7 linked regions of the Homo sapiens genome follow. The protein of the gene in region 7 purifies or fractionates together with the protein of the main gene of each other region. This does not show direct contact. Each region holds a gene or a part of one and is shown on either strand. Other genes may lie near its edges. The genes, in order: NDC1, RDH11, EXD2, DHCR24, GNPAT, SLC25A51 and SLC6A3.

Evidence for each region.
Region 1: the proteins of SLC6A3 (region 7) and NDC1 purify together in Homo sapiens (affinity purification with mass spectrometry; one large-scale study listed by BioGRID and IntAct). This does not show direct contact.
Region 2: the proteins of SLC6A3 (region 7) and RDH11 purify together in Homo sapiens (affinity purification with mass spectrometry; one large-scale study listed by BioGRID and IntAct). This does not show direct contact.
Region 3: the proteins of SLC6A3 (region 7) and EXD2 purify together in Homo sapiens (affinity purification with mass spectrometry; one large-scale study listed by BioGRID and IntAct). This does not show direct contact.
Region 4: the proteins of SLC6A3 (region 7) and DHCR24 purify together in Homo sapiens (affinity purification with mass spectrometry; one large-scale study listed by BioGRID and IntAct). This does not show direct contact.
Region 5: the proteins of SLC6A3 (region 7) and GNPAT purify together in Homo sapiens (affinity purification with mass spectrometry; one large-scale study listed by BioGRID and IntAct). This does not show direct contact.
Region 6: the proteins of SLC6A3 (region 7) and SLC25A51 purify together in Homo sapiens (affinity purification with mass spectrometry; one large-scale study listed by BioGRID and IntAct). This does not show direct contact.

The regions. Positions count from the first base shown.
Region 1 is NC_000001.11:53,792,998-53,796,988, forward strand, and holds part of NDC1 (nucleoporin NDC1), read right to left. Parts: coding exon 3,902-3,991; intron 3,808-3,901; coding exon 3,692-3,807; intron 283-3,691; coding exon 232-282; intron 1-231. UniProt on the Homo sapiens protein: Component of the nuclear pore complex (NPC), which plays a key role in de novo assembly and insertion of NPC in the nuclear envelope.
Region 2 is NC_000014.9:67,678,541-67,682,531, forward strand, and holds part of RDH11 (retinol dehydrogenase 11), read right to left. Parts: intron 1-3,991. UniProt on the Homo sapiens protein: Retinol dehydrogenase with a clear preference for NADP. Displays high activity towards 9-cis, 11-cis and all-trans-retinol, and to a lesser extent on 13-cis-retinol.
Region 3 is NC_000014.9:69,189,951-69,194,540, forward strand, and holds the start of EXD2 (exonuclease 3'-5' domain-containing protein 2), read left to right. Parts: upstream 1-1,547; 5' UTR 1,548-1,641; intron 1,642-1,820; exon of another isoform or gene 1,821-2,089; intron 2,090-4,590. UniProt on the Homo sapiens protein: Exonuclease that has both 3'-5' exoribonuclease and exodeoxyribonuclease activities, depending on the divalent metal cation used as cofactor.
Region 4 is NC_000001.11:54,866,696-54,870,195, forward strand, and holds part of DHCR24 (delta(24)-sterol reductase precursor), read right to left. Parts: intron 1-3,500. UniProt on the Homo sapiens protein: Catalyzes the reduction of the delta-24 double bond of sterol intermediates during cholesterol biosynthesis.
Region 5 is NC_000001.11:231,258,089-231,262,079, forward strand, and holds part of GNPAT (dihydroxyacetone phosphate acyltransferase), read left to right. Parts: intron 1-2,418; coding exon 2,419-2,595; intron 2,596-3,991. UniProt on the Homo sapiens protein: Dihydroxyacetonephosphate acyltransferase catalyzing the first step in the biosynthesis of plasmalogens, a subset of phospholipids that differ from other glycerolipids by having an alkyl chain attached through a vinyl ether linkage at the sn-1 position of the glycerol backbone, and which unique physical properties have an impact on various aspects of cell signaling and membrane biology.
Region 6 is NC_000009.12:37,897,412-37,901,402, reverse strand, and holds part of SLC25A51 (mitochondrial nicotinamide adenine dinucleotide transporter SLC25A51), read left to right. Parts: intron 1-1,452; 5' UTR 1,453-1,574; intron 1,575-3,991. UniProt on the Homo sapiens protein: Mitochondrial membrane carrier protein that mediates the import of NAD(+) into mitochondria. Mitochondrial NAD(+) is required for glycolysis and mitochondrial respiration.
Region 7 is NC_000005.10:1,414,060-1,418,050, forward strand, and holds part of SLC6A3 (sodium-dependent dopamine transporter), read right to left. Parts: intron 2,143-3,991; coding exon 2,039-2,142; intron 757-2,038; coding exon 632-756; intron 1-631. UniProt on the Homo sapiens protein: Mediates sodium- and chloride-dependent transport of dopamine. Also mediates sodium- and chloride-dependent transport of norepinephrine (also known as noradrenaline). Regulator of light-dependent retinal hyaloid vessel regression, downstream of OPN5 signaling.

The sequences.
Region 1 (3,991 bases), on a different chromosome or scaffold from region 7:
CCAAGAGATACGAGAGGCAACTAGAGAGTCAAGCTTCAGAAGCCACTGAAGTGAGATGTGTGTCTAGGGCAACTATTGTTAAAACGGAGGTTCAGTGAAGCACTATGCAAAGCTGCCTAGCTTGCTAGGATTAAGCTATAAAATATTTACAAGTCAGATCCTATCTGCTACTTTATTTCATATTTCATTTCCTCCCTCCCCATTCCCAACGCTATAACCACATATTCTTACCTTACTGAAAAAATACATTATCAGCACCCGTTTTGACAAGAAATTCTTAATCTGAGTTGGAAAAAAGGAAGAATTAACACATTTACCTTTTAAATTCTATTCAAATATAACACATTTCCTAGTTCTTCCAGACAGTAACTTAAATGAAAAAATGAAACACTTCACATCTTGTGGGCAAAGAATAATAATACTTAAACAATACGCCATGTAACTAAATACCTTTGTGCTACAAATTGGACAACCAAGATGAGCCAACTAAACTGTATTCCCATGTATACACGTTTAACCCCCAAATTAGAGCCCTGACATAAAAAAAAATTAATTAATTCTAAGTGGTTTTGGTGAAATTTTTTTCTTTTTTCTTTTTTCTTTTTTATTTCAGAAACAGGGTCTCGCTTTGTCACCTAGGCTGGAGTGCAGTTTTATGATCACAGCTTACTGCCACCTCAAATTTCTGGGCTCAACAGATCCTCCCACCTCAGCCTCCTGGGTAGCTGGGAATACAGGCACACCACCATGTCCGGTTAATTTTTAAATGTTTTTGTACAGACAGGGTCTCACCATCTTGCCCAGGCTGGTCTCAAACTCCTGGACTCAAGCAATCCTCTCACCTCAGCCTCCCAAAGTGCTAGGATTACAGACTGGAGATATTTTTCAAGGCCACATTATTTCTCGATTCTCTATAACTGTCCTGCCCTTTAACCTTTTAATACCCAAAAAAAGAGTATGTTTCTCTCACAGGGAAAAAAAAATCTTTTTTTTTTTGAGACAGGGTCTCACTCTATCACCCATGCTGGAGTGCAGTGGCACATTCATAGCTCACTGCAACCTCTGCTTTCTGGGCTCAGGTGATTCTCCTACCTCAGCCTCCCAAGTAGCTAGGACTACAGGAATGCACCACCACACCCAGCTAATTTTTGTATTTTTAGTAGAGATGGGGTTTTGCCATGTTGCCCATGCTGGTCTCGAATTCCCGGGCTCAAGCAATGTTCCCACTGTGGCATCCCAAAGTGCTGAGATTACAGGAAAAAAAATATCTTAAGACACAAAGTAGTTTTCTACTAGTTGACAATTCCGGGGGAAAAAGTGTTCTTAGTATCAGCTAAAAGCTAACCCAACTAACTTAAAAGTGAATCTGCTCCTACCATACTCTCACCCAAAGCTGCATGACTAGTCAGAAGGCTGCAGCAAGCAGCACGTGTCTGGTTGGGTAGAAAGTGACACGGCAGTACTAATGGCATATAGAGCCGTATGGGATCCCGAAGTTTATGAAATGCCTTTAACCATTCATTCCCTATTAATCAGTCATTCCATCAGCAAACATGTTATAATTTCTCCCATCTTAAAAAATAAAAACATGACTGGGCGTGGTGGCTCGCGCCTGTAATTCCAACACTTTATGAGGCTCAGGCAGGATGACTGCTTGAGGCCAAGAGTTTGAGATCAGCCTGGGCAACATAGAGACTGTGTCTCTACAAAAAATAAAAATTAAAAAAATTAGGCAGGCATGGTGGCAGGCACCTGTAGTCCCAGCTACTCAGGAGGCTGAGGTGGGAGGATCACTTGAGCCCGGGAGTTCAAGGCTGCAGTGTAGCCATGATCATACCACTGCACTCCAGCCTGAGCAACAGACAGACCAAGAACCCATCTCAAAATTTTTAAAAAAGTTCCTTGACCCCTCAATTCCTCCCAGCTATTGCCCCATTTTTCTGTTCCACTTACAACAAATTCCTTGAAAAATGTGGTTTTTCTTGTGGTCTCCAATTCGTCTACCAATCTCTCCTGAACTCATGCATTTTTTTGTCCCCACTACTCCAGCCAACAGCTCTTGTCAAGGACTCAGTGACCTCCGCATTTCTAGCTCAACAGTTAATTCTTAGTTCCCGCCCCATGCTACCCATCAGCAGCATCTGACACTCCCACCTTCTCCTCCTTGAAACTCTTTCTTTTCTTGGATTTCTACCCACCTCAGTCTCTGTTGCTATTCTTTATCTCCCAAACTTTTAGCCATTGGAGGGCCCCTTTCTTGGATATCTCTTTTCTTCTGTATTTACATTCAAGAGTTTGCATCGAGTCTCATGCTTTGAATACTATCTATACTCTGAAAACTTCCAAAGTTACATTTCTAGCCCAGAACTTTCCCCTACACTACCGCTATATGCCTAATTTCTTACTAAGTATTTTCACCTGGTTGTCTCATAGGTATCTCAAAATTGGCTTGTCCAAAATCAAACTCCTGATTTCCCTCCCCTCACCTCTATCAAATCTCCTTCTCCAGAATCATCAGTAAATTCCAACTCAATAAATTGCAACTATATTATTCCAGATCTTCAGGCCAAAAACCTTACCAGTGAACACTGACTCTTTCTAGTATACACCACAACCAAACCATAAGCTAATCCTATTCCATCTAACTTAAAATACATACCTAGACCTTGACCACATCTTACAGCCCCCACCACTACCACTCTGGTCCCAGATACCACCATCTCCCACTAGATTACTTAACACCTTAACACCGTCTCTGGGCTTACATGCCTACCTTGCAAGAGTTTAGTCCCAACACAGCCCCTAGAGCAGCACTTTCAAAATATAAGTTACATCATATCATTCTTGTGGGCAAGACCATACGGTGACTTTCCATCCCACTCAGAGATGAAGCCAGTCTTTACTACAGCCAATGAGCCCTGGGTGCCTGCTACCTTTCTGATCTTATCACCCACTTACCACTCTCCCCTCACTCACTCTGCTCCAGCCACACTGGTATCCACATTGTTCTTCACACAAGCCAAGGCCATTCCCATCTCAGATGCACTGGGCTGCTCCCAGCTCTCCCTTCAGGTCTCTGATCAATCATTGCCTTATCAATGAGACTTCCCCTTATCACTCCACATAAAATGATACCCTCTCCCTTAGGAACTCTCTGTCTTCCTTGCTCTGTTTTTCTAGTTAAGACTTATATCAAATTTCTTCCTTCTTATGCATGTTTTCCATATCTTGAATATGACCTGTTGAGATGCATCTTACAGTCAATAGCACGTCATGGGTTAAGGCATCTTTTTTCTTAATAGCACATAAGTCTTATAATTAATGATATTTTATATTTCAGAGAAACAGAATATAATACATTTGCTTACTCACTGATTTCCCCTCACTCGAATGTAAATATTACATGGGCAAGGACTCTGTTTTGTTTGCTTTTTTCCCAGTGCCTAAAAGCACACCTTGGATATATAAAGAACTCAAATATTTCTTACATGAAGTTATCAGGTCAAGTCATATGAAATTACAATGTGTATAGCTCAAACCAGTCAAATATTGGCTGTTTCATTTGAGTCAATACACGAAGCATAAAAAAAAAAAAAAAAAAGCTTCTTATTCCTGATGACTTACTCATGTGAGATCCTTAATGTTCTCAATTTTACATGCAAATATAAATCCTATAACCATATCATCCTACCTGTTCACGTTTATTCTGAATCCATGAATAAATCACACTGGGTTGTCTCATTGTCTTACCCTCAGCACTAATAGAGGTAGATGGAGAAGGATTAGAAAATTCAGTCATTTGCTGATCTATTTTTAAAAAAGAAAAGGCAAGATAAGAACTTAGGCTGTCTGATCCTCTGCAACATGACATTTAAAATCTTAAAAAATATATAATTCTCACCAGAAGCTGATGTCCACAATCTTGGCCCCCTTCTTATTAGCTGAGGACTTTGCGGTGACCCATAGCAGGTGTTTACATCAAAAATTCCAG
Region 2 (3,991 bases), on a different chromosome or scaffold from region 7:
CAGGGCCAGTGTTTGTCCTTATCTCTTCATTCTCCAGTCCTTAGCCAGAGAAAATGTAATTACCATTTTAGATCTCCTCGCTAGACCACCTCTCATCAGAATGCTTTGTTTGATATATAATGCATACATTTGGTCTTTATATTCCCCTATTTATATAATTTAATATTAGTGCCTGCCTGACACCCATGTATATCCATCTTCTTCAAGTAAGTCCATAAGGCCCATTCTACAGAGCCTTGGACAATGTCATATAGCTGAGATCCTGCTATTCACATTGGTCAGAGATGCCTGGAGTAGTAAAAAAAAAAAAGAAATGCTTATTTCTGGACTCCTTGAAGTTATACTGTTAGTAAACTCATATGAGAAGTAAAGCCAGCTTCGAAAACAACAAAAGGAAAAGGCGACACAGAAAAGAAATGGTAAAACCAAGGTACGAGGTGTCTTGGTCCATTTTGTGGTACTGTAACAGAATACGACAAACTGGGTAACTATAATGAGCATACAGAAACTGGCTTATGATTATGGAAGCTGAGAAGTCCAAGATCAAGGGGCTGGCATCTGATGAAGGCCTTCTTGCTGTGTAATAACAAGATGGAAGGCATGACATGGGCAAGAGAGGGAAGGGGACACAAGTCATCCTTTAATAAGGAACCACTCCCAAGATAATGAACCCGTTCCAGAGATAATGGCATTAAACCATTCATGAGGGCTGCCCTTGTGACCTAATTTACCTCTTAAAGGCCCTGCCTCTCTATACTGTTGTATTGAGGCTTAAGTTTCCAACATATGAACCTTGAGGGACACATTCAAATCATAGCAAAGTGTTTCATATACCCTCTCTTCATTGCTGTAATTAATTCCAAGTTTTTTTTTTTTTTTTGGAGGCGGAGTCTCACTCTGTCGCCCAGGCTGGAGTGCAGTGATGCGATCTCAGCTCACTGCAACCTCCGCCTCCCAGGTTTGAGCAATTCTCCTGCCTCAGCCTCCAGAGTAGCTGGGATTATAGGCGCCTGCCACCATGACTGGCTAATTTTTGTATTTTTAGTAGAGACAGGGTTTTGCCATGTTGGCCAGGCTGGTCTCGAACTCCTGACCTCAAGTGATCCACCTGCCTCGGCCTCCCAAAGTGCTGGGATTACAGGCATGAGCCACTGCACCCAGCCTGTAATTCCAAGTTTTATAATTTTATAATTCCGATGCAGAAAATTTTCTTAAGGACAATTCTGACTCATTTTTGTATTCTCTGGATCTGGTATACATCTGGTAAGCATTCAGTCAAAGTTTTAAAAAAAATGATTGAATGTATTACAATCTTTAGTCATGTGAGGAAACAATTTTTAAAAGTATACTATTTCAAGAAAATTGCTTCCTCAGTATCTAAGCAAATTCTGAAGGTGAAAGAGTTGACAAGTCTGAATTAACTATATATGCAAACTCTTAACACTATGTCAAGTAAGACAGTGGGATTCAAAGTGTGCACCACAAACCAGCAGCAGGAGCATCAACTGGGAGCTTGTTAGAAATTCTCCAGCCCTACTCCAGACATACTGAATGAGAATCTCTAGGGTTGTGGTCCAGGAATCTATTTTCAACTAGTTTTCCAGATGACTCTTGAACACACTAAAGTTTGAGAAATACCATTTCAAAATATCGTCACGTTTACAAAACAAGTCTTATCAGTACTTCTGTTTAAGAAGACTCACCAGTATGACCAGTACAACTTGCCATTTCCTAGTGAAAAGATCATCAGTGAGAACCACAAGGCTCTGTATCTCTCTGGAAATGACTCAGCCTTTGTAAGCCTCTGCATCCTCCACTGCACTGTGCCTTATACTCTTCATAAGGTTACAGTTAAGAGCAAAGAACACAGTTGACATGAAGGTTCCTTGTAGGCTATAAAAACTAATCAAATACTACAGCAAGAGCTTTCTGGTTGTTTTTTTTAGACAGGGTCTCACTGTTGCCCAGGCTGGAGTGCAGTGGTGTGATCGCAGCTCACTACAACCTCCCCAGGCTCAGGTGATCCTCCTATCTCAGCCTCCCAAGTAGCCAGGACCACAGGGACACGCCACCACGCCTGGCTAATTTTTGCATTTTTTATAGAGATGGGGTCTCATTATGTTGCCTAGGCTGGTCTTGAACTCCTGGGCTCAAGTAGTTTGCCCACCTCAGCCTCCCAAAGTGCAGGGATTACAGGCGTGAGCCGCCGCGCCCAGCCAAGTAAGAGCTAGTTAAGTGTGCCTATGGCATCAGCATGGTCACAGTATTGACATTTCCAGGGGGATTTTGCTAAGAATTAGTATAGGTAAAAGATAAACTAATTTCAAAACTTACTACAATGCTATAGTAATCAAGATAGTGTGATACTGGCATAAGGACAGACATACAAATGAACGGAACAGAAAAGTGAAACATAAACCCTTATATTTATGGTCAATTGATTTTTGACAAGCTTACTGTTATACTCCAATTGTGTTCCCCCAAAATTAATATGTTGAATCCCTAACCCCCAGTGTGACTGTATTTAGAGAGAGGGCCTTTAAGGAGGTAACTAAGGTTAAATGAGGTCATCAGGGCGGGGCCCTAATCCAACAGGGCCTTATAAAAAGAGGAAGAGACACCAGGAGTGTGTGTACATAGAGGAAAGGCCATGCGAGGGCTCAGAGAGAAGGCATCCATTTGGAAGTCAGGAAGGCAGGCCTCACCAGAGACCAACCAGGCCAGCACCTTGATCTTGGACTTTCAGTCTCCAGAAGTGTGAGAAAATAAATTTATATTGTTTAAGCCACCCAGTCTGTGGGATTCTGCTATGGCAGCCTTAACAGACTAATACAGATACCAAGACAATTCAATGGGTAGAAAACTGTCTTTTCAACAAATGGTGCTAAGGCACTGGATATCCACATGCAAAAGAATGAAGGTTGACCCCTACCTCATATCATATACAAAAATTAGTTCAAGGCCGGGTGTGGTGGCTCATGCCTATAATCCCAGCACTTTGGGAGGCCGAGGAGGGGGATCACTTGAAGTCAGGAGTTGGAGACCAGCCTGACCTACGTGGCAAAACCCCATCTCTACTAAAAATACAAAAATTAGCCAGGCATGGTGGTGTGCACCTGTAGTCCCAGCTACTCGGGAGGCTGAGACAGGAGAATTGCTTGAACCCAGGAGGCGGAGGTTGCAGTGAGCAGCCTGGGTCACAGAGCAAGATTCCGTCTCAAAAAAATAATAATTATAAAATAAAATAAAAATAGTTCAAAACAGATCACAGACCTATGTAATGCTACAACTATAAGACTATTAGAAGAAAACATAGGGGTTGCTATAGTTTGAATGTATCCCTTAAAAAATCACATGTTGGAAACTTAGTCCCTCTGCCTTCATGAACAGATTAATTAATAAAAGCTTTGCCCTCATACCTGGATTAATGTCACTATCATGGGAGTGGGTTTGTTCTTGCTTGCCCTCTCACCATGTGATGCCCTCTGCCATATTATGACACAGCAAGAAGGCCCTAACCAAATGCCAGGCACCATGTTCTTAGACTTCTCAGCCTCCGGAACCATGAGCTAAGTAAATTTCTTTAGAAATTACCCAGTCTGTGGTATTCTGTTTAGTAACAGAAAACTGTCTTTACTAAAGACAGTAGTAAATCTTTGTGACCTTGGGTAAGGCAATGATTTCTTAGATATGACTGCACAAGTGACAAAAAATAGATAAACTGGACTTCATCAAAATTTAAGTTTTACATTTCAAAAGATACCATTAAGAAAGTTAAAAGACAACCCACAGAATGAGAGAATATTTGCAAATTATATATCTGACAAGGAACTCGCATCTAGACTATTAAGAACTCTTGTAACTCAACAATAAAAAGACAATTATCCAACTTAAAAATGGGCAAAGGACTTGATAGACATTTCCCCAACAAAGAAACAAATGAACCAAAAAGCGCATGAAAGAATGTTCAACATCATTAGTAGGAAAATGA
Region 3 (4,590 bases), on a different chromosome or scaffold from region 7:
ACTGCAGCCTCAAACTCCAGGGATCAAGACGTCCTCCTGCCTAAGCTTCTGGAGTAGCTGGGACTACAGGTGCACACCATGATGCCCAGCACTTTGGGAGGCCGAGGTGGGAGGATCGCTTGAGGCCAGGAGTTCAAGACCAGCCTGGGCAACACAGTGAAAATCCCTAAAGTGCTGGGATGACACGTTGAGCCACTGTGCCCCAGCTAGGGGTGAAATTGTTGGAACAAAGTCTTTTCACATATTCAGATTCAGTTGATACCGCCAAACAGTTAAACAAAGTGATTGCATCAATTTATGTTCCCTTCAGGAGCATATGAGAGTTGTGGTTGCTCCACAATCTTGCCAATACTTGACATTTTCTTTTTCATTTAGCTATATCTCATTGTGGTTTTAATTTGCATTTCCTCTTTATCCTTTGTTTTTTAAGTGTTTCAAGATGGAGCAGATAAAAATTCAGGGAGTTAATCCTCTATAATAGCTGGAAATTTCCCCCATGGGTACTCATTCAATGGAATTTAAAACATTTGCCCCTGTATTGAAGGCAATATAGTATAAAGGATGGGGCCACATGCTCTGCAATCAGAAATATGAGGTTTGATTCCTAACTCCGGTGCTTACTTGCTGAATTACCTTGAGGAAGTTATTTAACCTTTTTCTATTTTATGTAAAACGGCACTAATAATAGTACTGCCTCACAGGGTTGTTATGGGGATTAAAGGAGAAAAAATAAGTAAAATGCTTTGCAAAGTTCCTAGCAACAGGTGAGCACAAAGTCAACAAATGGTAGCTATTATTATACCTTATATTGGTTATTTATGCACATCTCATTTCTCCTTCTGTTTTACACATTCCATGAGAAAGGAAAAGCATGCATGTAGCACAGATTAACTGCCTCACATATAATTGCTAATAAAGACTGATTGGATGAACGATTTAATATATAAACAAAAAGTATTGTGGTTATCGCTATAAAAGATGGCATAGGTTGGGCATTCACGCCTGTAATCCCAGCACTTTGGGAGGCCGAGTTGTGAGGTTCGCTTGAGCCCAGGAGTTCGAGACCAGCCTAGGCAATGTAGGGAGACAGTATCTACAAAAAAAAAAAAAAAAAAAAAAAAGGAGGGTACATAAAATTATTATAGTGGCTATAGGATAATGTGCACTGCTAATGAAGACTACATTATTTAAATACAGTGTCTTTCCTTCTATTTACTGTTATCGTTTAGCAGAAAAACAGTACGCAGGATACTAAAGAAGGAAAATTCGATGTCCCATATTACATTTGTGAGAGTTCTGGAGGTTTCTCCCTTCAAAGCCAAAACCAAAACACAAACATACCATCCCAGTAACAAATGCGTCACTTTTCTGAAGAAGACGTTAAGCCCTTCCAATTTTAACAGATCCTTTGTTCAACAGAGGAGAGAGACTGGGTAGGCATCACCTGCCCCAGTAGCTTCCGTACAAAATGGCGTTGCCCGTTCCCACACGCCAGCTGGGATTACGTCCTCCAGGCCTGTCGCAGGAACGGAAGTGGTTACGGCCCTAGTGAATCCGGGTGGGTGCGCGCAGGCGGCCGCACAGGTTCCAGGTCTTTAACGTGAGCCCGCTGCAGGTGTGCGGCCCAGTCCGAGACAGCAGGTAAGTGAGGCTCAGAAGCCGGCGAAGCCTTGCACCAGGATTGTGCGCGGGGCAGGGGGTGCTTCCAGTGCAGACTAAGAGGGGTCGTGGAGCGGGGGGATATTACCGTGTACGGGGGTGACATTGCGGGGCCCCCGCTGTCCCGGAGCGAGTTGGCCCTGCCCCTCTCCCCGCCCCTCGGCGTGACCCCCTCGCCCCCGTCGCACACGGCGGGGCGGTTCAGCACCCAGGTGCGCAAGGAGGGCCTCACCCCTGCCCGCGGCCTCCCACGCCCTCCTTGGGCCTCTCCTTTCGACCCCCTTACCCTCTCCCTGGGAGACTCTACCAGACCTTCGAGGCTGCGTGTCCCAGTCAGCTAAAAAGGAGGCCCCGCCCGCGGCACCTGGTAGCTCCTCGGGCGCTGCGGGTTCGACGCGGCAACAGCTGCTGTTTTCTCTCCTGGATTCGTGTGAGCCGCCACCCTCGCTACCATCCCTGTCCTCCCAGACCACACCCTGCTCTGGGCCTTGCCGGGAGCCACCTCTTTGGCTTTTCACATCCCTGGGATGGATCAAAACTAAGAACCTTAATCATTATTTATTACAAAATTGACATCTGCTCCTTAAAATACAAACAAACCAATCCCCCGATAAGCTTTTGATATGATTCCAACATTCAAACTCCTTTATATACCCTCTCCTCAAAAACACAAAATTGAAATTATACTTTATTTTCTTAGTTCTGTTCCAAGGATAGAAGGAATTGAAAGGTTTTGTTAATCATAGGAATTAGGAAGTGCGGGTTGGGGCGCAGCGGGGAAGATGGATTAAATTTGGTCAAGTTGAGCTTGTTTTAAAAATGTATTTTTAAAATATTCTAGTTATAGTCCGTGCATAAAGCCTTGTAACAAAATTATGTAAAAATTTTAAACACAGATCTTTCTTAGCTTGATGTTCTTGGTGGTGAGGGTGGGGAGTGTGGAAGACAGATCCTCTTTGATTTTGTTTTTTTCCATCTCCACCTTCTTTACCAGTCCCTTTCCCACAAAATAAGAACTGTTGTCAGTTTGTGTGTATTTTTCTTTGCATTTATTTGACAAGTATGTGTACGTATAAGATATATGTTTGTAAGATTTCGCTTTAAACTTTTACAAATATGCATGTTTTATGCATTACACAACTTGACGTTTTATGCTTAAAAACGGGTCTTGGAATTTTTTCTTTGTCAGTACCTAGAGATCTACCTATTCTTTCTACTTGCTCTGTAAATTCCATGGTTATGTAAGATTCCATAGATTGTTTCCAGTTTTTCATTGTTAGACACAGTATGGCGGAGAACATCCTTCCCACACACCTCTGTGAGAGCCCATGTGAGAGCATTTCTCAAGGATGGGTACCTGCAGGTGGAATTGCTGGGTGGGAGAGTATGGGGATTTAGGAATGCCAAACTGCCACCCACGGTGGATAATAATTTCCTCCATTCTCTCTCTCTTTTTTTTTTTTTTTTGAGACAGAGTCTTGCTCTGTTGCCCAGGTTGGAGTGCAGTGGCGTGATCTCAGCTCACTGCAGCCTCTGCCTCCCAGGTTCAAGCGATTCTCCTGCCTCAGCCTCCCGAGTAGCTGGTATTACAGGCACCCGCTACCACGCCTGGCTAATTTTTGTATTTTTAGTAGAGACGGGGTTTCACCGTATTTGCCAGGCTGGTCTCAAACTCCTAAACTCGAGTGATCCGCCTGCCTTGGCCTCCCGAAGTGATGGGATTACAGGCGTGAGCCACCGTGTCTGGCCCACCATGCTCTTTTGATCATTTAATGGTATCGATCTTTTTTGTTTTTGCCAATCTGATGGATGGAAAAGTGATTTCTCTTTGCTGTTTTAATTTGCATTCCCCTGATTACTATTGAGATTGAACATCTTCATGATTGTCAGCCATTTGTATTTCCTCTTTTGAGAAACATCTCTTTCTATTGGATTGTCTTTTCCTTATTGATTTATAATAGTATTTTATATGTTCTGGATTTTGATCTTTTGTTATTCATATGTGTTTATAATATTTACTCCCTGCTTATTGCTTTTTTAAGTTGTTGCTTGTCTTTTAACTATATGGCATCTTTGTTGAAACAAAGTTTAAAATTTTAGGTTTTAATTTATCAGTCTGTTATGTGTGTGTTTGTATTTTGTGGCTATCATTCCCAATCCGAGTGGTTCTTAAATGGCAGAGATTTTTGCTCTCGGGGTTATTTGGCAATGTCTGTAAACATTTTTTGTTTGTTCCACTAGGATGGTGCTGCTATTGGTTATCTAGTGAGTAAAAGCGAGGGTGCTGCTAAACATCCTACAGCGCACGGGAAAGCTTCCCACAACAAAGAATTTCACCAGCCAAAAATGTCAGTTGTGCTGAAGTTGAAAAATCCTTCTCTACTTTTAGAGAGAGGAGGGTTTTCTCCTAAAGCTCTGTTTTCTCCTTGAAGTTCTTCTTGTGGGAATAGTTTTTTTTCTTTAATTCCTCTGGAATTGTGTGTGTGTGATTGTTGTTTTCCAAATACTGTCACCTCGAACAGTCAGTCCATTCTTTTTTTTTTTTTTGAGTCAGAGTCTCGCTGTGTCGCCCAGGCTGGAGTGCAGTGGCGCGATCTCAGCTCACTGCAACCTCTGCCTCCCGAGTTCATGCCATTCTCCTGCCTCAGCCTCCCAAGTAGCTGGGACTACAGGCGCCCACCACCTCGCTTGGCTAATTTTTTGTATTTTTAGTAGAGATGGGGTTTCACCGTGTTTGCTAGGATGGTCTCGATCTCCTGACCTCGTGATCCACCTGCCTCGGCCTCCCAAAGTGCTGGGATTACAGGTGTGAGCCACCGCGCCCGGCCTAGTCAGTCCATTCTTGAACCATTAATCCGAAATGCCACACTTACCATGTACTAATTTCTTTTTTTTCTTTTTAATTTTTATTTGTAGAGATAGAGATGAGTT
Region 4 (3,500 bases), on a different chromosome or scaffold from region 7:
TGGATCTCTGGCCTCCAGCACTTGCAGCTTATCTGTGTGCCACCCGCTTGTGCAGGCCCACCCTGCTGGTAAGGCCACCCTGCTGGTGAGGCCACTCTGCAGGGAGGAAACTGGGGCTAAAGAGCCTCTTTGCCCAAATTAGTTTTGGTGTGGATGGTATGGGGCAGCGCAAAAAACACTCACGCTGGCCTCTGCCTGCTAATGTGAACAGGGGAACCCAGCAGGAAACAGAGCAACCTGATCTAACCCCAGGTGAGGTGTGTCACATACCTGGCAGTGGCAGCAGCTGCATAATGAAAGTGAGACTTAGGGCCACCTGGATACAGGCGCTCCTGGTGCTCACTGATGCATCAGGAGCCATGCAGAGAAGCCCAGGACATGGGAAAGAACCCAGATAGTCTGTCTTTTCCAGGCACACACCAGCTGAGGAGGCCAGGTGGCTGCATGAGCTCCAGTCCACCCCAGCCCTTGACTGCAAGCCACTTCCTATCTCTGGGCCTCCTCTGTGAAATGGGGGTAGGCTGCTTCTCACAGGATTGCAGCAATGTTTACACGGGGCAGTGCCTGCAGAGGGCCCATCACAGGGCCTGGCACACAGGGACAAATTCCTGAATGCTTAGAAACAGAAATGTTTGGAAGCAATGCTTCTAAAATGAAATGCCCAGATGTCTAATGGCATCCACCACTCTGCCCCAGCCCTGTTCCCTCAGGTATCAGGGTCTTGCTCACTGGGGCACTTGGCAAATATCCCTCTGCTGCTGATTCTGGGAGGGCCTTTGGGTAAGGCTCTCTGTGCCTCACAGTCTTCTCCTTGGGAAATAAGGGAATCAGATCAGGTCTCCAAATATTTCAAAAGCTGGGCAAACCCCTCTGCCAAATCATAATCTTAGGGAGCATCTAATACATCAAATGGATGGCAGCAGAGCCACTTTGGGTACAGTGGGGGTGGTGACTCCCCTTGGTCCCATCCCTCCTCAGCTTTCCTACCCCTGAGAGCCTCAAGGGAACACCTCAGAGCAGCTGGAAAGCTCTGGTCTAGATGTCCTTGCTAGGTGACTTGGTGCTAGGTGACACACACTGTCTGAGCTTTGGCCTCAGGCAGATCCAGGGGCCCAGGAGGGCCAGAGCACTTCAGCTCAATGTCCGGTATTGCCACCGCTGTTCCAGGACCTCCAGCACTTACCGCAGTGTCCCACAGGGAGCAATGTTTGCATAGTGCTAAAGTCTGCAGGCTGATATGTCAGGGAACCGACACTGAACCAGGAGTCAGAAGCTGGAATTTAAATCTGTTCTGTGCTAGCTGTGTGTCTTCAGAGAAGTCTCTTTCCCTTTCTGGGCCTCATTTCCTTATTTGTAGAGAGGATTGTACCGGATGATTTTATAGCCCTTCACAACTTTAAAATGTTTTAAGTATGTATATAGGTATAGATTAAGAGTCTTAAGGGATGCCTATCCTTTGATCTGCGATTTTATGTTAAGATATTACTCCAATTGGCCGGGCGCAGTGGCTCACGCCCGTAATCCCAACACTTTGGGAGGCCGAGGTGGGTGGATCACGAGGTCAGGAGATCGAGACAATCCTGGCTAACACAGTGAAACCCCATCTCTACTAAAAATACAAAAAATTAGCCGGGCGTGGTGGTGGGCGCCTGTAGTCCCAGCTACTTGGGAGGCTGAGGCAGGAGAATGGCGTGAACCTGGGAGGTGGAGCTTGCAGTGAGCCGAGATCCCGCCACTGCACTCCAGCCTGGGTGACAGAGCGAGACTCTGTCTCAAAAAAAAACAAAAGATATTACTCAAATTACAGACAAAAGATGTTCATTGCTCCATTAATTAAAGTAATAAAAAAATTGGAAGCAACTTAAATTTCCAACTATGGGCAGCAATAGGGCATTCATTTCCTCAGTGCAAGGTGCAATGCAAGGTTGGCCATTCTAATTGGGATTCTTTAATTCTAATAAGAATGGACATTAACAGTGATGGTTATGAAGGCAATGTAATAGTTCTAATAAAAGATGGATATTAACAATGACGGTTATGAAGGCAATGTAACAACAGGGGGAAATGCTTATCACAATAAACAAGAAAAAGGCTGGGTGCAGTGGGTCACGCCTGTAATCCCAGCATTTTGGGAGGCCGAGGCAGGCGATCACCTGAGCTCAGAAGTTCAAGACCAACCTGGGCAACATGGCGAAACCCCGTCTCTACTAAAAATACCAAAATCAGCCAGGTGCAGTGGCATGCGCCTGTATTCCCAGCTACTCGGGAGGCTGAGACAGGAGAATTGCTTGAGCCTGGGAGGTGGAGGTTGCAGTGAGCCAAGATCGCACCATTGCACTCCAGTCTGGGTGACAGAGTGAGACCTTGTCTCAAAACAAAAAACAATAAACAAGAAAAGACAAATGTGAACCAAGTGATCACTGCTGAAGACAAACAAACTGCAAAATGCTGCAAAGAGAGGCTCACCCTCACAAGTGATCCAAGAACTGCAAAATAAAACGAGATACTATTTTTAACGCTATCAGATTGGCAAAAATGAAAGAGTGATCCTATTTAGTGTTGGCAAGAATGTAGGGAAAAAGGTGTTCTCACAGACCATTACTACAAGTAGGCATAAACACAGCTCTTCTCGAGGGCTGTTTGGTCATATCTATTAATATTTAATGTGCTCAAACCTTTGTGTAACAAAGTCCATTTTTCTGACTCAATCCTACACAAATATTTGTACAGAAGGACAGGATAAATGTGAGTCTTAAATCTTCAATGCAATCTTATTTGTAAGAGCAAAACAGTTTATGCAACATAAATGTCAGTAAGGGCTAAATTAGGCCAATTATTTACATGCAAAAATGGGATATTACAGAATGAAATGAAGACATGCACACATACATATACACACACACACACACAGAGAAATAGGTCTCGGCTGGGTGTGGTGGCTCACACCTGTAATCCCAGTACTTTGGGAGGCTGAGGTGGGAAGACTGCTTGAGGCCAGGAGTTCAAGACTAGCCTTGGCAACATAGCAAGACCCCATCCCTACAAAAAAATTTTAAAAATTAAAAAATTAACCAGGCCGGGCACAGTGGCTCGCACCTGTAATCCCAGCACTTGGCTTGGGAGGCCAAGGCAGGCAGATCACCTGAGGTCAGGAGTTCGAGACCAGCCTAGCCAACACGGTGAACTCCATTTCTACTAAAAATACAAAAATTAGGCAGGCATGGTGGTGCATGCCTGTAATCCCAGCTACTTACGAGGCTGAGGCATGAGAATCGTGTGAACCTGGGAGACAGAGGTTGCAGTGAGCTGAGATCACGCGCTGCACTCCAGCCTGAGCGACGGAGTGAGACTCCATCTCAAAAAAAAAAAAAAAATTTTTAACTGGACATGGTGGCACACGCCTGTAGTCCCAGCTACTTAGGAGGCTAAGGCAGGAGGATTGCTTGAGCCCTGGAGTTCAAGGCTACAGTGAGCTGTGATCGTACCACTGTACTCCAGTC
Region 5 (3,991 bases), on a different chromosome or scaffold from region 7:
TCCCTTGATTCCTCTATTTTCCCTTGGTTCTGCCCTCTGCCCTCTGCCCTTTCTTCCTGTCCAGCTGTTATTAGGATTATCTGAGTAACTGTTTCACCAACCCTTAATTCTCCTTTGCAATCTTTCCTTCCAGACTGACCAGGAAAAAAAGCAGCCTGGAATCTGCCAACTCACCTTCTCTGTTCCTATAACCAGGTGTCTGGCTGCTCCTGGGAGAGTGGGTGAGTTATACAGATCCACATTCTGCAGCCTCAGGATCCCTTCTTCCATCTGTCCCTTTTAGTCCAGTCTCAGAGAAAAGGCGCCTGCTCTCCTGGTCACAGCTAGCCACACCCCTGTGGTCGGAAGTCATCCCGTCCAGCCTCTTCTGAGACCTTTGGCATGCATCTGCTCCCTTTCCTCTATCTTCAGCCTTTCTCTCAGGGGACTTCTTCTATTTGGTCTATAAACAGGTCCGAGGCTTTAACACCACTGAGCTGTATACTTAAAAATGGTTAAAATGGCATATTTTATGTTATGTGTATTTTAATGCAATTTTTTTTTTTTTTTTTTTTTTTTTTTGAGACAGAGTCTCGCTCTGTCGCCCCGGCTGGAGGCAGTGGCTCTATCTTGGCTCACTGCAAGCTCCGCCTCCCAGGTTTACATCATTCTCCTGCCTCAGCCTCCCGAGTAGCTGGGACTATAGTCACCCACCACCACACCCAGCTAATTTTTTTTTTTTCTATTCTTTAGTAGAGACGGGGTTTCACCGTGTTAGCCAGGATGGTCTCAATCTCCTGACCTCGTGATCCACCTGCCTCGGCCTCCCAAAGTGCTGGGATTACAGGCATGAGCCACCACGCCCAGCCAACACAATTTTTTAAAAGTGGAATGCTAATTAATAAAAACAAAAAAACAGGTCCAGGACTTTTGCATCTAGGGAGAGCATTTTTTGCTTTAATTCATATCATCCCTTTACTTCTCATTCAAACTTTCCCATTATTCTGTGGCCACTGTCTTTAGTTCCTCAGCAGTTCATTTAGTCTTCAGTCCATTCAGTATGAGTTCTCTTCTGACTATATTTATAAACTTTTTTTTTTTTTTGGCACAATCACTGTTTCAGGTAACCTGAGTAAAACAAAGGAACACAGGTAAGAGGAAAGAGTTTATCCCAGTTCCTCCCTGTTGAACTGAGCCCCCCAAAAGATAGGATATGCAGCAAGATAGAGATGGTGGTTGCACAACATTTGTGAATGTACAAAATACCACTGAATAGTTCACTTTAAAATGATTAATTTGGCCGGGTGTGGTGGCTCACGCCTGTAATCCCAGCAATTTTGGAGGCTGAGGCGGGCGGATCACCTGAGGTCGGGAGTTCAAGACCAGCCTGACCAACATGGAGAAACCCCGTCTCTCCTAAAAATACAAAATTAGCTGGGCATGGTGGCACATGCCTGTAATCCCAGCTACTCGGGAGGCTAAGGCAGGAGAATCGCTTGAACCCGGGAAGCAGAGGTTGCGGTGAGCCGAGATTGCACCATTGTACTCCAGCCTGGGCAACAAGAGCGAAACTCCGTCTCAAAAAAAAAAAAAAAAGGTTAATTTTATAGTGTGTGAATTTCACCTCAATGAAAAAAAAGGGTAAGATACTTCTTCACTACATGTAATTGGGGTGCCAACACCTGTCCTCTGAGCTTCTGAGCTCATCCTAAAGCAAAGCACTCTCCTTTGGGAAGCATAAGGATTACTTATCCTACAGACTTCATTTCAAAGTGCTTGTTTAGGGGACAATGAAAATGGGCAAATCAGGGCTTCCTCAAGGATAGAAACTGACTTGCTCATCTCCAGGCCCTTGACAGTCCCAGCACACAGCAAACATTTTATTTTCTTTACAAAAGAGCTAGAGGGCCATGTGAATAAAATAAGTTCCGTTGTGAGATTCTTTATTTCACTAATTATCCTTTGATAGCTTGGGACTTTGTGTGCCTGTGACTTGATAGATCTGATGTAGTCTGAGTCGGTAATTTCAATGTGATCTTGTATATTACCTTGTAATAGCATTGAGCCAGCTGGTGGAGCACTGCAGCAATACACTGAGAGAAGCCACTATTTGCTAGGACACTAGACCATGGGCAGCAACTTATTTTAGAGTTTGGATATAAACTTATTAACAAACCAAATGGAAAGGTGAAGTGTTTTCTTCACTCTAAAATGCTATCCTAGAAAGCCATTTTTCTTTTAATTTCTGGCCTTTAAACTTCTTTAAATAGGCTCATTTATCTACTATGACTGTGTTGGGAAGTTGTCAATTAAGAAGACACTATCTTTGAGTTATAGAAGATTAATCCATTTGGAACTAGTCATACTGGTTTGAGTAAAGCTTTCTGACTTTTCTGTTATTGTTGTTAGAAATTATTCCTGCTTTTCCTTTCCTTTTAGCTTTCCAAGGAATCCCTTCAATCTGTGGATGTCCTCCGAGAGGAAGTGAGTGAGATCTTAGATGAAATGAGTCACAAACTGCGTCTTGGAGCCATTCGGTTTTGTGCCTTCACCCTGAGCAAAGTATTTAAACAAATTTTCTCGAAGGTGTGTGTAAATGAAGAAGGTATTCAGAAAGTGAGTATTGATTATTAAAAAAATAAAGAAATAAAAGTCTCATCTTAAAATTAAACAAAAAAAAAAACAGTCTCTTTTTCAACCCCTCACAATTTAATCAACTCAAGGACAGCTCACTTGGTCAATCAAAAGCCTAGGGCCTAATCATCAGGCCTCCAGTCTAGGCAGAAGAGGATGTGCATCTCTGAAGGTTGTTTTCTGTTTTTTTGTTTCCTTTTAACTGCAGACCTACAGGCTTCAGACTAACTTAGTCAAGTAAGACTTATAGACTAACTTAATGCCAGATATTCAGTAACGTTACAAAAGAAATACAAAGAATTCCTGTATATACTTCACCTAGATTCCCTTACAGCATTTCCTTTATCCTTTTCCTAATACTCTGCTGTGTTTTTCCTATAATTAAGGGCATTATCTTATGGTACAAGTATCAAAATAAGGAAATTAACATTGAACAAATACTAGTAATACTGACCTGACTCATATTTCACCAGTTGTCCCAGTCATGTCCTGTCTAGCTAAAGAAAATCGTAGCTCATGTGTTGCGCTAGAAATCCTAGAAAGTGTTCAACTTTCTTCTGTATCCACTTCCATATTAGACTCTTTTAATCTAAAATAATTCCTTAGTATCTGTATTTGTGTTTCATGCTAATTTTTTTTTTTTTTAAAGAACAGGCTAATTATTTTGAAGTGTGAAATGGTTTGAATTTGAGTGATGTTATCTCAGTATTGGGCTCGGGTTGTGTACCTTTGCTAGGAACACCCCGGAAGCGATGCATTCTTCTCAGTGGGTCGTGTCAGCAATGCATGGTGCCTGTCGGTTTCATTACTGGAGATGTTTCACTTCCATCAGTTGGTTATCGTTATGACTGCCAGGTTTCTCTGCTGTAAAGTTATTATTTTTTCCCTTTATAATTAATGAATATCTTGTGAAAAGACTCTTTGAAAATGGCTAAATACCCTGTTTTGCATCATACTTTACCCCACTCGTTTTTGCACCCACTGATGATTTTTGCCTGAATTAATTATTATGTTAATGATTGCCAAATGATGACTTTTCTAATTTCATAAAGAGCTTTCCTTATGAAGAGTATTTTTACTTATTTGTGTTTTATATTTTTTTCTTCTAGGAAAGCTCTTAACTTCACTTGCCTTCCTCCTCATCCCTTTTAATATTTTGTTTTAATTCAGTCATTTACTTTCCTGTCAAATATTTCTTCTTCCTACTGACTGTTTTCGAGATTGCTGACTTATACCCTGAATCTGTCAGAGAATGTTACAGTGTTTGGGACCAAGGGTGGTGGTGAGCCATTTCTTAAGTGATGATCACAGATTACCTGGCCTCTGTTACATTTAGATTTCAAAAAAACAGATAACACATGGATACCAGTGAATCTTG
Region 6 (3,991 bases), on a different chromosome or scaffold from region 7:
TGAGCTCAGGAGTTTGAGACCAGCCTGGCTAACATAGTGAAACCCCGTCTCCACTAAAAATACAGAAATTAGCCGGGTATTGTGGCATGCCTGTAATCCCAGCTACTTGGGAGGCTGAGGCAGGAGAATCGCTTGAACCCAGGAGGTGGAGGTTGCGGTGAGCCAAGATTGCGCCACTGCACTCCAGCCTGGGCAACAGAGTGAGACTCTGTCTCAAAAAAAAAATTTTTTTTTTAAACTAGGTGAGCATGGTGGCTGATGCCTGTAGTCCCCTTTGGGAGGCCAAGGCTGGCAGATGATGTGAGCCCAAGGAGTTTGAGACCAGCCTGGGCAACGTAGAGAAACCCTGTCTCTACAAAACATACAAAAATTAGCTGGGCTTGGTGGTGCGGGCCTGTGGTCCCAGGTACTCAGATGGCTGAGGTGGAAGGATTGCTTGAGCCCAGGAGGTCAAGGCTGCAGTAAGTGCAGTGAACTGCGAGGTAGCCACTGCATTCAGCCCAGGTGACAGAGCAAAACTCTGTCTCAAAAAAACAAAACAAAACTGAGAAATAGTAAGATTGGTAATTCACAAGCTGCTGCTTTGCTAGGAGTGGTAAGGTTATAAATTAGATAAACTGATAACCCTGCTCAAGAAAAAAGGGAACATAAGTACACAGGTTAGAAGTAATTTTTTAAAACAGCAAGTGTTGGATGGGTGCAGTGGCTTGTAAATCCCAGCACTTTGGGAGGCCAAGGCAGGAGTTCAAGACCAGCCTGGGCAACATAGCAAGGCCCCCTCTCTGCTAAAAAAATGTTTTTTAAAAGTTAGCCAAGCATGGTGGCATGCGCCTGTGGTCCTAGCTACTCAGGAGACTGAGGCCCCAGGGGTCCAGGCTGCAGTGAGCCATGATCGTACCACCGTACTCCAGTCTGGGTGACAGAACAAGACCCTGTCATTTTTTTTTTTTTTTCTGGATAGAGTCTTGCTGTGTCGCCCAGGCTGGAGTGCAGTGCTGTGATCTTGGTTTACTGCAACCTCTGCCTCCCGGGTTCAAGCAATTCTCCTGCCTCAGCCTCCCAGGTAGCTGGGACTACAGGTGCGTGCCACGATGCCTGGCTAAATTTTGGATTTTTCGTAGAGATGGGGTTTCACCGTGTTAGCCAGGATGGTCTCGATTTCCTGACCTCATTCATGATTCGCCTGCCTTGGCCTCCCAAAGTGATGGGATTACAGGCGTGAGCCACCACACCTGGCCAAGATCCTGTCTTTAAAAATAAAAATAGGCTGGGAGCAGTGGCTCATGCCTGTCATCCCAACACTTTGGGAGGCCAGGGTGGGAGGAACACTTGAGCCCAGGAGTTTGAGACCACCGTTGACAACATAGTGAGACCCTGTCTCTACAAAAAAAAAAAAAAAAAAAAAAAAAAAAAAGGCTATATAAATTAAACCAGAATTTTTTTTTTTTTAAGGAAATCCAGTTATCAAAATTGACTCAAGAAGAGAGAACCTAACAGAACAATAACAATGGAAGAAATTGGGAACATTATCACAAAGCTATCATCCTGCCAAACTCCAGGCTCAGATGTCACAGGTGAATGCAATTAAACTTCAAGGAACACATCATTTTGATAAGATTTAAATTGTTCTACAGTATGATGGGGGTGGGGGGGCGGGGAATCACATATTCTTTTTACAAAGCCAGTGGAACATTGACACTGGCACTTGATGTGAAGATAGTATTAAAACTGAAAACTTATCTGAGTGCCAAGGCTTATGCCCATAATCCCAACACTTTGGGAGGCTGAGGCAGGAGGATTGCTTGAGCCAAGGAGCTTCAGACCAGCCTGGGCAACACAGAGTGACCCTGTCTCTACAAAAAAGTGAAAAATTAGCCAGGCATGGTGGCGCACGTGTGTGGTCCCAGCTGGGAGAATTGCTTAAGTCTAGGAGCTTGAGGCTGCAGTGAGCCATGATTGTACCACTGCACTCCAGCCTGGGTGACAGAGTGAGACCCTGTCTTGTAAAAGAAGAAAAAAAAAATGACAACATGATCTGTTATGAACAGTAATATGAAATTTTAAAATATTAGTAAATGGAAGTTAGCAGTATGATGAAAGAATATTTCACCACGGCCAAGTAGCATTTATCCACATATTGCAAGAGTGAGTAATCACCAAGAAATATGCTAACATAATACACCAAATGAATAAGTCAGAAAAGATAGAAAAGAATAATAAAATAGCTTGCCCTTGTTGAGTTCCTACTGTACACTAGACTGCTGTCCTGGGCACTTTACATGTTGTTAGCTCAGTTAATTGAGCTAGTCTATGAGGTAGTTAATAGCCACGTTTTATAAAGAGAATAAGCTATAGAGTGACTTGTCAAAGGTCACACAGTACATGTGTGGTGGAGCTAGGATTTAAGTAGGTAATTAGTAGGTTCCAGAGGCTGTACTCTTAAATATTACACTGGCTGTCTCCAGTGTTTGTATGATCATCTCAGGAGCTTTCTAAAAGCATTTGACCAAAGTTTAAGATAGACTCTTGAGTTATTGGCGGTGGGAAGGTGTGGAGGTGATTGAACTTCAGTACAACAATAATAAATGTATATTTCCTTCCCATGTTTGAAAATTCTCTCAGTTTGACTTATCAGTTGACTAGAAAAATGAAATTCATTTTTATTTTATTTATTTATTTATTTTTGAGACAGAGTCTTGCTGTGTCGCCCAGGCTGCAGTGCAGTGGTACAATCTTGGCTCACTGCAACCTTGCCTCCTGGGTTCCGGCAATTCTCCTGCCTCAGCCTCCCAAGTAGCTGAGATGACAGGTGCATGCCACCATGCCCGGCTAATTTTTTTTTTTTTTGAGATGGAGTTTCACTCTTGTTGCCCAGGCTGGAGTGCAATGGCATAATCTCAACTCACTGCAACCTCCGCCTCCGAGGTTCAAGCAATTCTCCTGCCTCAGCCTCCCGAATAGCTAGGATTACAGGCATGCGCCACCACGCCTGGCTAATTTTGTATTTTTAGTAGAGACAGGATTTCTCCATGTTGGTCAGGCTGGTCTTGAACTCCTGACCTCAGGTGATCCACCCGTCTCAGCCTCCCAAAGTGCTGGGATTACAGGCGTGAGCCACCGCACCCGGCCACCCCCGGCTAATTTTTGTATTTTTAGTACAGATAGGGTTTTGCCATGTTGGCCAGGTTGGTCTTGAACTTCTGACCTCAAGTGATCTGCCTGCTTCGGCCTCCCAGAGTGCTGGGATTACAGGTGTAAACTACTGCTCCTGGCCTGGAATCCATTTTTAATGGGAAGCACAATTTCATAGTTAATAGTTGGGGGCAGGAGCTTAAGTTATAATTGCAGCTCCACTAATTCTTAGAATGAATATAGATTGAAGTCTTGGGGTTTTTGGCATGATTTGTGAGATGAAATTATGTGATAGCAGAAGGAAGGCCTCCTGCACTTCATGTTTACAGTAGAGTCCTACAGATGGGCAGGGGTAGATGATAAATAGGGAGGAGGGATACTTGAGTGGAATAAATCATATATGACTCAGCTGATCAGTGAACGTTTCTGTGTCTTGATGATTTGTTTCCCTGTGTAAACTTGAAAACTGCTAGGACCTGGATTATGAACACTCAGATGACAAGAACTTCCTGTTTAAAACCGAAAGCCAACTTAATGATAATCCCTAGGAGAGTTCCCACAGGTGTCAAGAAAAATATAAGAACTATAATTATATATATATGTAATTATATATAGGGATTATAATTATAATTTATTATAATCCTTTATTATAATTTAATTTTGTTCAGGAAGTATTTATCAGTTCAATAAGAAGAAAGAATTACACATATTATAAAAGAGAAGGCAAAATTTTTTGCAAGTGATCTTTTACATGGTGGAAACTAAAACGTTCACCAAAAAACTGAGACATAGTAAGAATTCAGTAAGTTAGCTGGTTCTAACCTTAATACCCAAGAATTGTTAGTTGTTTTCTTATGCA
Region 7 (3,991 bases):
GCAGGGACACCCTGTGCTGGAGGCCCCAGGGATCTCCCGGCTGCTCTGTGGCCAAGCTGATGTTTGCGGCATCCCAGCCTGCCTCCAGGTGTTGCTGGAACAGCTCATTCCTCCCCTTCCCTGAGCTGCATGTTCCCACACCGCGTGGCAAGCAAACATCTAGAGGGCCCTCAGTGACAGCATCTACGCCAGACCCTGGTGGGGCAGCCTCATGTGGCATCTGCAGGGAGCAGTCGAGGGACTGAGGCACCAACTATGCTGCTCAGCTGCATTTGGGCTTGAGGTTCCCCAGCCCAGGGTGGAGGCCCCGAGAGGCACAAGGCAGGAAAGGCACTGGGTGGGGGGGCCTGGAGGGGCAGGGCGGAGAAGGCACTGGGTGGGGGGCCGGGAGGGGCAGGGCGGGGAAGGCGCTGGGTGGGGGGCCTGGAGGGTCAGGGCGGGGAAGGCGCTGGGTGGGGGCAGGTCTGTACTGGGATGTGTACCACCATCCTTCAAGAGTGAGGCAGCAACTCTCACTGAAGTCGCTCAGGGCCCATGCGTCTCCTTCCTCTTTCACAAGGAAAAAGGCTTTGCTGAGAGCTCGGCGCTGGTGCTACACGGAGCAGGCCCAGGTGCAGCAGGAGGGGCTCACCGTCCTTGGCCACGTCCCCGATGGGCACACTGTGCTTCTGTGCCATGTACCCCAGGAAGGAGAAGACGACGAAGCCGGAGGAGAAGCTCGTCAGGGAGTTGATGGAGGTGGTGACAATCGCGTCCCTGTAAGAACAAGACACGCCGTCTCAGGAACCAGCTGAGCTGCAGCAGCTGCAATTTTCCAGTCATTATTCTTAATTTACTGTGTCTGGGGAAGGGGGCGGGAGGTCTTCGGAGGGGCTACTTTTCCCAGTGAGCACGGCCAGCTCCTTAGCAGCCTGGCAGAGCTGTCCTTGGGCCACCTTGGTCCCCTAGCTGAGCTGCTCAAGGCTCAGCCATCAAGGCTCAGGGTGGGCAGAACAGACGGCCACCCCTGTGCCCCGCGAGTCTTGCTGTGGACACCTCACCCAGGGCAGATCTTCCAGAAGCTCTAGGAGCACACACCTCCCGGGGACCTCGCTAAGATGCAGATCCTGACTGGGCGGGTCTCATGGGGTCTCGGGGGCTGTGTTTCCCATGAACTCCCAAGGGCGCTGGTGCTGCGGGCCTGGGGGCCCCACTCTGAGGGCTGAGAAACCAGAGAGCTGGAGGCAAGCCGAGGACGAAGAGGGAGGGTCCTGGGGTCGGTCAGGGCACCAGCGTCCTCCTCCTGGGTTCCTGTGTGGCCTGTCACTGGGGTGGAAGGACCACACACTTCATCTGCAGAGCACCTGGACCCAGGTGGACGCAGGTGGGCTGCGGGCAGGCGCTGCCTCAGGACCTGCCTTCCAGCGCCCACTCTCAGTGAAGCCTGCTTGTGGTCTGCCTGGCCATTCTGCTGCACACACTGTCCTTGTATTTTTACCGTGTTTCTAGCCTCATGATGTGAAAGAAAGTAAGCACAAGTCCATAAAGGTCAAAGCAAGCAGATCCCGGATAAAATTCTGTTTCTGTTTTTAGAAGGATTTGGGGTCCGGCACGGGGCTTCAGGTGCCTGCCAGTAAGTAACACGGGGTGCATATGGGATGGGGGGACACACTCAGGGGGTTGTGAAGCTGGACCCTGAGCGAGGGAGGACAGAGACCCCCCGGGGCTGGTGTGAGGGAAGAGGGTGTGTCCTTGTGGAGGGAGGGGCTGGCCTTGCCACTTGGGGCCCTCAGTGGGGAATCTGGCCGCAGGTCAAACCTAGGCAGGTCCCTCCCAGGAGGCGACACACCCACTGGCTTCAGTGCCTTCTTTAAAGTTGAAATCAAAATCGTGTTGGGAGCTGCCTCGCTGTCGCTTCTGTCTGAAAGGCCACGCAGCTCACAGGTTTGCGGGTTCAGTGGATCCGCCCTGTTCTCATCCAGGGACACCCTATTTCTGGAAGTCAGCGACCTCTCCCTAGTATTGATGAGGCCCCTGCCTGGCCCTGCTAGGGGCTCACCTGTAGCAGTTGTTGGTGAACTTGTTGTAGCTGGAGAAGGCGATCAGCACCCCGAACCCCACGCCCAGGGAGAAGCACACCTGGGTGGCCGCGTCAATCCAAACCTGCAGAGCCAGAGGGCGGTGAGAGGCTGTCCCAGGAGAACGCAGGCCACAGGCAAAGGACCTGAGCACCCTTCCTGTCCCAGCCCCACACTGAGGCCTCTAAACTCAACACCATCCTCAAGAAGTAAATGGCAGCAGACGACTGGTGGAAGATGCAGCCTCAGGAAGTGAACCCTCCCGGGCCAGCGGCCTGGAAGAGCCTGAGAAGCAGGGGGCTGTCTGTGTTCATTGATCTGGGATTCCCCATGGAGTATCAAGGCAGCGATTCCACAGAACCAGAGGTGCCCTGCTCCATAGCCCTCAGAACAGCATGGACTCATCCACACACGGCATGACCACAGCATCCTAATAACCCTCGGAACAGCACGGCCTCATCTACACAAAACATGACCACAGTGTCCTAATAACCCTTAGAACAGCACGGACTCACCCACACACAGCATGACCTCAGCGTCCTAATAGCCCTCAGAACAGCACGGACTCATCCACACACGGCATGACCGCAGCGTCCTAATAGCCCTCGGAACAGCACGGACTCATCCACACACAACATGACCGCAGCGTCCTAATAGCCCTCAGAAGAGCACGGACTCATCCACACACAACATGACCGCAGCGTCCTAATAGCCCTCGGAACAGCACGGCCTCATCCACACATGACATGACCGCAGCGTCCTAACAACCCTCGGAACAGCACAGATTCATCCACATGCTGCATAATGGTGGCACCCTGATAACCCTCAGAAAGTCATGAACTCATCCACACACAACATGACCGCGGCGCCCTGATAACCCTCAGAACAGCATGGACTTATCCACACTCACACCAGCCCTAGCGGGGTCTCCATCCTCCCTTGATCAGGGTCCAGCTTCACAACCCCCTGAGTGTGTCCCCCCATCCCATGTGCGCCCTGCTGCATGATGGCAGTGCCCTGAAACCCTCAGAACAGCACAGACTCAACCACAGGCTACATGATGGCGGCTTCCTGATAACCCTCAGAACATCATGGATCATCCACAAGCTGCATGATGGCGGCACCCTGATAACCCTCAGAACAACATAAACTCATCCTGAGGCTACATGATGGTGGCGCCCTGACAACCCTCAGAACAGCATGGATCATCCACATGCTGCATGATGGCAGCACCCTGATAACCCTCAGAAAGGCATGGACCCATCCACATGCTACATGATGATGGTGTCCTGATTGGACGCACACCAGCAATGCCTGCTTTGTATCCTTCCCAAAACATGAGCAGTACAGGTGCACAGTGGCACCTGGGCATGGCCAGGAGCCCACCTGCAGCTTAGACACTGGTGCTGTGCCTGCCCAACTCGGTGGATGGCACCCACAACTCTGGACGTGAAAGGAAAGGTGGGTGGGTCCACGATTGGACCATTGTGGTATTTTAAAAAGTCAGCCACAACCTGCTAAGGTGAGGGCACTGCGGAGACCATTCAGTGACTCAGATGCCCACCTTGCCCTTCCCTGGGCCTTGGATGGGGGAGAAGGAGCAGCCAACCCCCCCTTGGAGGCATTTGAGGGACTGGTCAGTTAGGGCTGTTCCTGCAAGTCCCTGGAGCCCATGGTACAGGCCTGTGGGCCAGGATGCTGAGGCAGAGACACCAGATGCTCCTGCTGGGGAGGCCAGGTGGGTCTCAGGGCATCCCAGGTCCCAGGTCAAGCTTGCCTGAGCTTGACTGAGCAAGGGAACTGGGTGCTGCAGAGGGGGCGGGGCCCTCTGTCCTTTGGGCAGCATGTCAGAGCCTCAAGGCAACCCCAGTTCCTGGGACAGTGTGTTTGGAGGCAGATGGCCAGGCCCCGCAGTCAGGACTCTGCAGGTGGCC